Linked DNA regions of Homo sapiens: region 2 is linked to region 1. Evidence: fine-mapped expression QTL. A gene starts in region 1. The other region holds a variant in brackets. All regions are shown on one strand. Distances are between the middles of the regions. Region 1 holds the start of ENSA (endosulfine alpha). Region 2 overlaps GOLPH3L (golgi phosphoprotein 3 like).

Evidence for each region. PIP is the estimated chance that this variant, and not a neighbour inherited with it, causes the effect. A credible set is the group of variants that fine-mapping cannot tell apart.
Region 2: its variant is the best candidate, but not a certain one, in a credible set for the expression of ENSA in whole blood (TOPMed, PIP 0.61).

Annotation. Positions count from the first base shown.
Region 1 is chr1:150,627,209-150,631,601 of GRCh38, forward strand. ENSA (endosulfine alpha) reads right to left here and starts at 2,404. Exons shown (of 4, transcript NM_004436.4): 1 at 2,206-2,404; 2 at 259-384. The coding sequence starts at 2,262. LOC112268239 (a long non-coding RNA gene) reads left to right here and starts at 2,611. Exons shown (of 2, transcript XR_007066603.1): 1 at 2,611-3,294. RefSeq lists enhancers at 2,119-2,388, 2,131-3,098, 3,099-4,068.
Region 2 is chr1:150,668,727-150,673,119 of GRCh38, forward strand. All of the region lies in intron 2 of GOLPH3L (golgi phosphoprotein 3 like), which reads right to left. Among named protein-coding and RNA genes, the nearest start is that of GOLPH3L, 26 kb to the right of the region's middle. The variant A/G (reference allele first, on the strand shown) is at 1,796.

The DNA of each region.
Region 1 (4,393 bases):
AACATCTTTCCCTCATTTCCCCACACACCCAAATGCTCCAATTTAGGCCTTAATTTCCTACATGGGAAATCAGGAGGGAATTGATACCACATCAGGGATTTACATTAATTTGACTTGCTCTTTTCAAATTTCAAATTCGCCTCTACTTCTGTTCAACAACAAAACCTCCAGAAAAGGATCCAGTAGAACCTCTACAGACTTCATTCGAAGAACCTCCTTTAGCTCCAAAGAAAGAGGGTAAGAGACTATGCCCCATACCCCTTTCTGGAGTCTCTTCATGAGGAAGTCGGAGCCTCCAGGCTTTTGTCCTAGGCTTGGGTATTTGGCCTTTAGCTTTGCCTCTTCAGCTCTCTCAGGCAGAATACCTTCTTTCTCCTGCGTGTCCTGGAGAAAACAAATGAGCCAAATAAAATTAAAGACTGAGAAACAACAGCTTCTCACATCTGATAACAACTATACTATCAACTTCTCCTGGAAATCCACCCACTTGTAAATACGCTATCTCTACTCTGCTGTTAAAGCTAGACCTTTGTTAAAATCCCTAAAGCTCAAGATGACTATTGTGAGAGAAAAAGACAAGCTGCTTCTCACACTTCACCCAAGGAACCAGCCAGGGACCTGTGCGTATTGGGCTAAAGGTAATACTAAACACAATACTTTAATCACAGAGTGGGCCATATCACTCAGCACAAATGCTAAGAAAGACAAAGAGAAAAAAGCAGGGCTTCTGGTGATAGAGGATGAGTAGCAGGGTTCCCTAGGCTATCCTACATGTCACATGAGAAATTAAAAAAAAAATAGTTTGGGGCTGGGAGCAGTGACTCATGCCTGTAATCCCAGCACTTTGGGAGGCTGAGGCAGGTGCATCACTTGAGCTCATGAATTCACTACCCGCCTGGGCAATATGTTGAAACCCCGTCTCTACAACAACAAAAAATAGTTTGCTAAATGTTTCCTCCTTATTTTTTTCTTTCTTTTTTAAAATTGCTACACGACAAAGCAGTTCCTTCTTTATTCAAGGTCTAAGCCACCTGTTAGGTCTCCCTGTGGAGGCGGCTAGCTATGTGGCCTTCTCCAAAGATCTCCACCTGAGTAATGGCACAGCCTTGCTTCAACATTTCCACAAATATTATGGTAGCAAGCTGATAAACAGAGAGGAAAATGATACTGTTTTTAACCTCAGGAAAACAAAGATACAGTAGGCTCACTAGTATTTACCCACCAGTTTTCATCAAAAAAATCAATACCTACCCTGGTGGTGCAGGGACTCTCACTACTGTAGTCAATCTCTTTTTTTTTTTTTTGTGGTCCCTGCTGCCCTTTAGTGACTTTTTGAAAAGATATGAAGTCAACGTATGACTCTTTTTAGTGGAATTATATTCCTTTCTCTTGGAAATTACGCATAGATATAACACCAAGTGTATTTAATGAGTACCTGAACCCAGTACTAAATTTTAAAAGTCAAATACAAACCCCAATAAGGGGTTTATTTGGCGTTAGTGTTTCCATCACGGAATCGCAGGTGCACTAAGTCCCTGCCTTGGAAGTCTAGGGGAAGAGAGAAGTGTCTTTCTCACGACCCTGTCGGCGTCTTTTCCAAGTTTAATTACCATGATTCTGTTTGGAACTCTAGCCCTCTTCAATATTGCTGGGTCCTCACTGAAGGTGAGCAATAGACCATCCTTAGCTACTAAAATAGGTCTCTTGAGAAAGTTGCCGCCTTAAACTAGCCATTATAATAACTACACTTCTCCCCTCCCCCAATACTGGTTTTTTTTTAAACGTCTTTACCTCGACCCCTATCTTTGCGGATTGAGGCTGCGGGCCCCAGCCCGGTTGCTGGGTCACTTACCTCTACAAACCAATAACACACATCACACCCAAGACCACCAGCCATCCCCTTTCCATTCACCGTCTTTCCAACCACCCGCCCCACGTCCATGCTCGGCCAATTATAGCACAGCGTCCAAGGTTTGAGCGGTAGGCCTATTGGCCAATCAGGAAGAGTACAGTACTGAGTGACAAACGACCCAACTAACCAGCGCCAAAGCAGCATGTCGTGTTGAAGCTCACCCAGCGTGACGCAAAAAGTGGCCAACCCCTGCGGAGCCTGAGACCATGGCGACCAATCCGCACTGGTGGGAGACCGTCTCCCGCCCCATCACGGTCTCCCCAGCTCGCCCGCCCGCACCCCTTCCACTTCACCTGCTTCTCCTCGCCGGTCTCCTCCGCAGGGTTCTCTTCTTCTTGTTTCTGGGACATGGCGGGACCGGGACTGTGGAGTGTAAGGGGCCCGGGAAGGCAACCGGAGAAGGGAAGGGGGAGGGGAAACGGGGACAACCTGCGCTGCTGCTTCGGCTCCTGTCACTAGGGTTGCTCAGTCAAAATGGCGGCCCTTGCCCGTGACGTTGCGACCGCCCCTTCCTATGAGAGCCAGTGGGAGTGAGGTAGATAGGGCAATGACGTAACGATCTACCAATAGTCGCCGTCTAAAGGTGGGCTCTATAGAGGCGACCGGCAAGCTGGAACACCAACCTGGAAAGAGAGTGAGCCACAAGGACCAATTGGAAGCCTGTGGGGGATATCGGGGGCGGGGCTGCTGGCTGTGGTACTTTTGCAGCTTTGGTGGGCTCCGGCTTCCTTCACTCCAGCCCACCGCGTCCGAGAGACTTAGCAGGGCGTCAAACTGGAGAGCGGAAGGATGGAACCTTTTATTCTCAGGTGGAGAGGATTAAGCTTTGCGGTGTTAGCAGAAAATGATCGAGCTCCAGAAAATGATTTGGAGGTCAGATTCGATTTTAAAGTAGTACTAACAGGCCGGGCGCGGTGCCTCACGCCTGTAATCCTAGCACTTTGGGAGGCCGAGGTGGGCGGATCACCTGAGGTTAGGAGTTCGAGACCAGCCTGACCAACATGGTGAAACCCCGTCTCTACTAAAAATACAAATATTAGCCGGGCGTGGTGGCGGGCGTTTGTAATCCCAATTACTTGGGAGGCTGAGGCAGGAGAATCGCTTGAACCCTGCAGGCGGAGGTTGCAGTGAGCCGAAATCGCGCCACTGCACTCCAGCCTGGGTGACAGGACGAGACTTTGTCGCGAAAAATAAAATAAAACGGTACCAATGGTATTACGATGTGTCACTTGGCCTGTGGAAGAGAGAGACTGAGTCTCAACCCGAGCTGTCTTGCAAAACACTAATGGCTTACGTTCCGTAGTTTCACTCTTATGTGTAGTTTTTATATTCCATCAGGGTGATCCCTTGGGGACTACGCTCCTTGAAACAAGGAGGACAGTGTAAGTATGTGGTAAACATTTGGTAAATACGGTTAATACTAGTTAACCTATCCAGAATTACAGTTTAACATTTCCTGGGCGTCTGTCTGTATGTGGATGGTACTGTGTTAGTTGGGGGGGGTACGTGTATAGTAAGGCAGTCTCTGCCCTTAGAAAGCTTACAGGCCTGGCTGGGCGCGGTGACTCACGCCTGTAATGCCAGCACTCTGGGAGGCGTAGGCGGGCGAATCACTTGAGGTCAGGAGTTCGAAACCAGCCTGGCCAACATGGTGAAACCCTGTCTCTACTAGAAATACAAAACAAGGCTGGGCACGGTGGCCCACGCATGTAATCCCAGCACCTTGGGAGGCCGATGAGGGTGGATCATGATGTCAGGCGATAGAAACCATCCTGGTCAACATGGAGAAACCCCGTCTCTACTAAAAATACAAAAATTAGCCAGGCGTGGTGGCGTGCACCTGTAGTCCCAGCTACTCAGGAGCCTGAGGCAGGAGAATCGCTTTTACCTGGGAGGCGGAGGTTGCAGTGAACCGAGATCGCATCTCGCCACTGAACTCCAGCCTGGGTGACAGTGAGAGTCCGTCTCAAAAAAAAAAAAAAAAAAAGAGTGGCAGATAAGAAGTGCTCTTTATGGAGATAATTTGGTGGTAATGAATAAAAAGACTCAGAATTCCAAGCAGAAAACTACCAGAGATGAACAGTCTAGCCGAGTCCTCTGCAAACGTTAGGTGGGAGATAATTAGGATTTAACCTAGAAACGTAGTAGTTAAGAATAGAAAATAGTGAACCTAACCAAGAGAGTCTGTGACAATGGAATCCACTAGACTAGCAGCTGACTGAATAGAGAATGAGAAGACTGTGTGCCTCAAGGTGATTATTTATAGAAACAATAAATTCAAGAAGAGGAGTCAATTTGGGAATGGAGCTGAAAAGCAGAGAGAAAATAAGGCATTCAGTTTTGAAAACATGGACTTTTTTTTTTTTTTTTTTTTTTTTTTGAGACGGAGTCTCGCTCTGTCACCCAGGCTGTAGTGCAGTAGCACAATCTCAGTTCCCTACAACCTCTGCCTCGCGGGTTAAAGTGATTCTCCTGCCTCAG
Region 2 (4,393 bases), 42 kb after region 1:
TTTTTTAGGTTAACACTTGTTTTTTTTTATAGTTTAGCTACCTAATTAAAGTTAAACTATAACTTCCTTCAGAACACGTAATTATGTAGGCATTATTTATTCTCGTAATAAATCTTAACAGGTGTGCAAACATTTTAGCCAATATTAAAGCAACTGGAAGAAAGTTTTCTTTTGTTGTCTCATTTCCTCCTGACCATGTAACTTCTGTTTCAGTGACAGTGACATCAGATTGTCAACAAAACTATAAATGAGAAGCAGTATAAAGAAATGATGAAGATCAGGATAAAGAAACTACATTTTTGAATGTCACACTTTCCTATTGTAGCATCTCAAAACATACAAAACTTTCCAAACGAGTTTTTAACTTTTTTATTAAGAATATGCAATAATAGACAAAAGTATAAAAACATATATGTAGAGTTTTAAGAAAATAATTATAAAACAAACACCTGTATAACTACAAGAAAGAGACTGGATTTAGAAAAAGAAAATAACTGAGAAAAGAGAGAACATGATAGTAAATGTTCCCCTGTACTGTGGGTACATATGACCAATAAAGATTATAATATTGTCATCTATAGTAATATTTAGAACAGATTGAAACAAATTTAGGTGCAGAATAGCCTGGAGGTAAGGGAAAATACAATTATTTATATTTAAAGGTCATTTTCCTCTTAGTGTATCTATCTAACTTAGTGAATTCTCCAGCCATTCATAATAAAGATTCTATATTAAATGGCCAATGCTTTGGTATGTCTGAGCAGGAAGACCTAGCACGTACATACTAAAGTTCACCATTTGATCATTAAATCTCATTACCAAAGGCTATCTAAAGAAAATTTTAGGACCTACCCAACACAGATGGAATTGCACATTGTCTCATGGCTAATGGAGAATCTCAGAGAATTTGCAGAATAAGATATTCAGATAGTGGACTTTAATATACATCTGTAGGCCGGGCGCGGTGGCTCACACCTGTAATCCCTGCACTTTGGGAGGTCAAGGCGGGTGGATCACCTGAGGTTAGGAGTTCGAGACCAGCCTGGCCAACATGATGAAACCCTGTCTCTACTAAAAATACAAAAATTAGCTGGGTGTGGTGGCACGTGCCTGTAATCCCAGCTACTCAGGAGGCTGAGGCAGGATAATCACTTGAACCTGGGAGGTGGAGGTTGCAGTTAGCTGAGATCACACCACTGCACTCCATCCTGGGCAACAAGAGCAAAACTCCGTCTCAAAAAAAAAAACTGCAGGCCCGGCGTGGTCGCTCAGGACTGTAATCCCAGCATTTTGGGAGGCTGACGTGGGTGGATAGCCTGAGGTCAGCAGTTCAAGACCAGCCTGGCCAACATGGTGAAACCCCGTTTCTACTAAAAAATATAAAAATTGGCCAGGTGTGGTGGTAGACGCCTGTAATCCCAGCCACTCAGGAAGCTGAGGCAGAAGAATTGCTTGAACCCCAGAGGTGGAGGTTGCAGTGAGCTGAGATCTCACCACTGCACTCCAGCCTGGGCGACAAGATTGAAACTCCATCTCAAAAAAAATTGTAAAAAAGAAAGAAAAATCCCATTATAGAAATGTATACTTTAGGCTGGGTGTGGTGGCTCACGCCTGTAATCCCAGCACTTTGGGAGGCTGAGGCGAGTGGATCATGAGGTCAGGAGATCGAGACCATCCTGGCTAACACGGTGAAACCCCGTCTCTACTAAAAATACAAAAAATTAGCCGGGCGTGGTGGCGGGTGCCTGTAGTCCCAGCTACTTGGGAGGCTGAGGCAGGAGAATGGCATGAACCC[A/G]GGAGGCGGAGCTTGCAGTGAGCCGAGATTGTGCCACTGCACTCCAGCCTGGGCTACAGAGCAAGACTCTGTCTCAAAAAATAAATAAATAAATAAAAAGAAATGTAGACTTTAGAAAGTGAAAGTGTTCTAGAATCTTATCCCCTCTAGAGGATCACTACCAACAGTTTAATGGGTACTTTTCTAGATTTTTATATACATATTCTATGTTTACACTTATTAATATTATTTCTAGAAATGGCATTACACTGAGTGGTAACTTTTTTCATTAACCCATTATTCTGGGTATCATTCCACATCAGTAAATATACTTCTTCATCCCTTGTAATGACTGCATAGTATTGCATTTTACATGCATTATAATTTTATCTATCCAAGCCCCTTACTGATGTGCATTTAGGTTGCTTACAGTATTTTGTTATTATTAAAAAATGTTGGCTGGGTGTGGTGGCTCAAGCCTGTAATCCCAGCACTTTGGGAGGCCATGGTGGGTGGATCACCTGAGGTCAGGAGTTTGAGACCAGCCTGGCCAACATGGTGAAACCCAGTCTCCACTAAAAATACAAAAAAATTAGCCGGGCATGGTGGCCCGTGCCTGTAATCCCAGCTACTCAGGAGGGTGAGGCAGGAGAATCCTATGAATCCAGGAGGCAGAGGCTGCAGGGAGGTGAGTTCGTGCCACTGCACTCCAGCCTGGGCGGCAGAGTAAGACTCCATCTCAAGAAAAAAAAAAAAAAGTAAAGACGTATTCATTTGTGTGTGTATTTCTGTTGAATATCTAGAAGAAAATTCTGGGTCAAATATTACACATATTTAAACTTTAAAGATTGCACAATGGGAATTCAATAAATTCAGACAGTCAACACTTTATGCTGAATTTCCACTTAGTCAAGTATTCAAAGTGCCCTTCCTTATTCAAACTTCCTTGAAGACACACCTTAAAACAACTCTGAAGGTTAAAGATCTTAAAAGTTGCCTGCTTGGCAAAAAAAGAGGAAAGAAGGGCCGGGCGCGGTGGCTCACGCCTGTAATCCCAGCACTTTGGGAGGCCAAGGCGGGCGGATCACCTAAGGTCAGAGTTTGAGACCAGCCTGGCCAACATGGTGAAACACTGTCTCTACTAAAAATACAAAATTAGCCGGGTGTGGTGCCGCATGCCTGTAATCCCAGCTATTCGGGAGGCTGAGACAAGGAGAATCGCTTGAACCTGGGAGGCGGAGGTTGCAGTGAGCCGAGATCGCACCACTGCACTCCAACCTGGACAACGAGAGCAAAACTCCGTCTCAAAAAAAAAAAAAAAAAAAAAAGAGGAAAGAAAACAAAACAACTTAAAGCATCATTAAAAAATATGCTCATAAGGAGTTTTTAAAATAACATTAGAAAATACTTGTGATAAAGTTGAATGAAAAATAGCCAGATATATAATTGAGTATCCAGGATTATTACAATGATATAAAATAATGTCTACATTAAAACATGGCTTTTTAACCTTTCCAAATTATCTACAGTGAGAAAATATCACTTTTTAAAGGAAAATTTTCAGAAAAAAAGAACCCCTCCATCTCCCCAAGTCTGAAGATTTAACATTAAAATTGCTTCACCTTCCATGAGAGAAGAAATGTTATCATGTTGCTTTGAACCCTTTTATATCTGCCCAATTCCAAAGCCCAAGGAAAGTATAATGATCTTCAGGGGTTATCAAAAATTCTACAAGCAAAACTAATTTTATTATTTTTTTCCTCCTAAAAAATTACTCTAAGAAAATTTAGTGTACTGTTTGTCCTTGAATCACTCTATTAAAAGAGTGGTATTCAGGATTTGATGTAAATTCCTCTTTTACAAATTAATGTGATTCATCGAAACTCCAATTCCTATTTCTACATCCACACAGCTCATAAAGACATTTTATGTATGTATGTATGTATTTGAGACGGAGTCTCAATCTATCGCCCAGGCTGGAGTGCAGTGGCACAATCATGGCTCACTGCAACCTCTGCCTCCCAGGTTCAAGCGATTCTCCTGCCTCAGCCTCCCGAGTAGCTGGGATTACAGGGGCCTGCCACCACATTCAGTTAATTTTTGTATTTTTAGTAGAGACGGGACTTCATCATGTTGGCCAGGCTGGTCTCGAACTCCTGACCTCAGGTGATCCACCCACCTCAGCCTCCCAAAGTGCTGGGATTACAGGTGTGAGCCACTGCACCTGGCCAAGAGATTTTATAAAATAGATCAAGCATTAAAAGCCCACTCTGTTTAATCCTATTGGAGAATGAAGAACTGTGACCTGATGCTGTTCTGGTTTAACAGATAATTTCAGCCTGATCGTGAGGAAGGGATTATAAATATAGGCAAATGGACAGGATTTCTCAATGAATGAAATGAAGATTGAATCCTTTCAGGTTTATTTTAAAAGGTGGGTAGAAAGATGCAAAGCTAGTTACAATGATCAGTTTATTAGTTTTTGCAGGGCTTCTGTTTTTTTTTTCCTTATCAAAAGTTTAGCAAATAAAAACAACATGCTAATGCGTTGTCAGTGAAAGGGAAATGCAAAATAAAGGAAAGCAACTGGTCATCTTTGAATTCCCATATAAGCTTTAA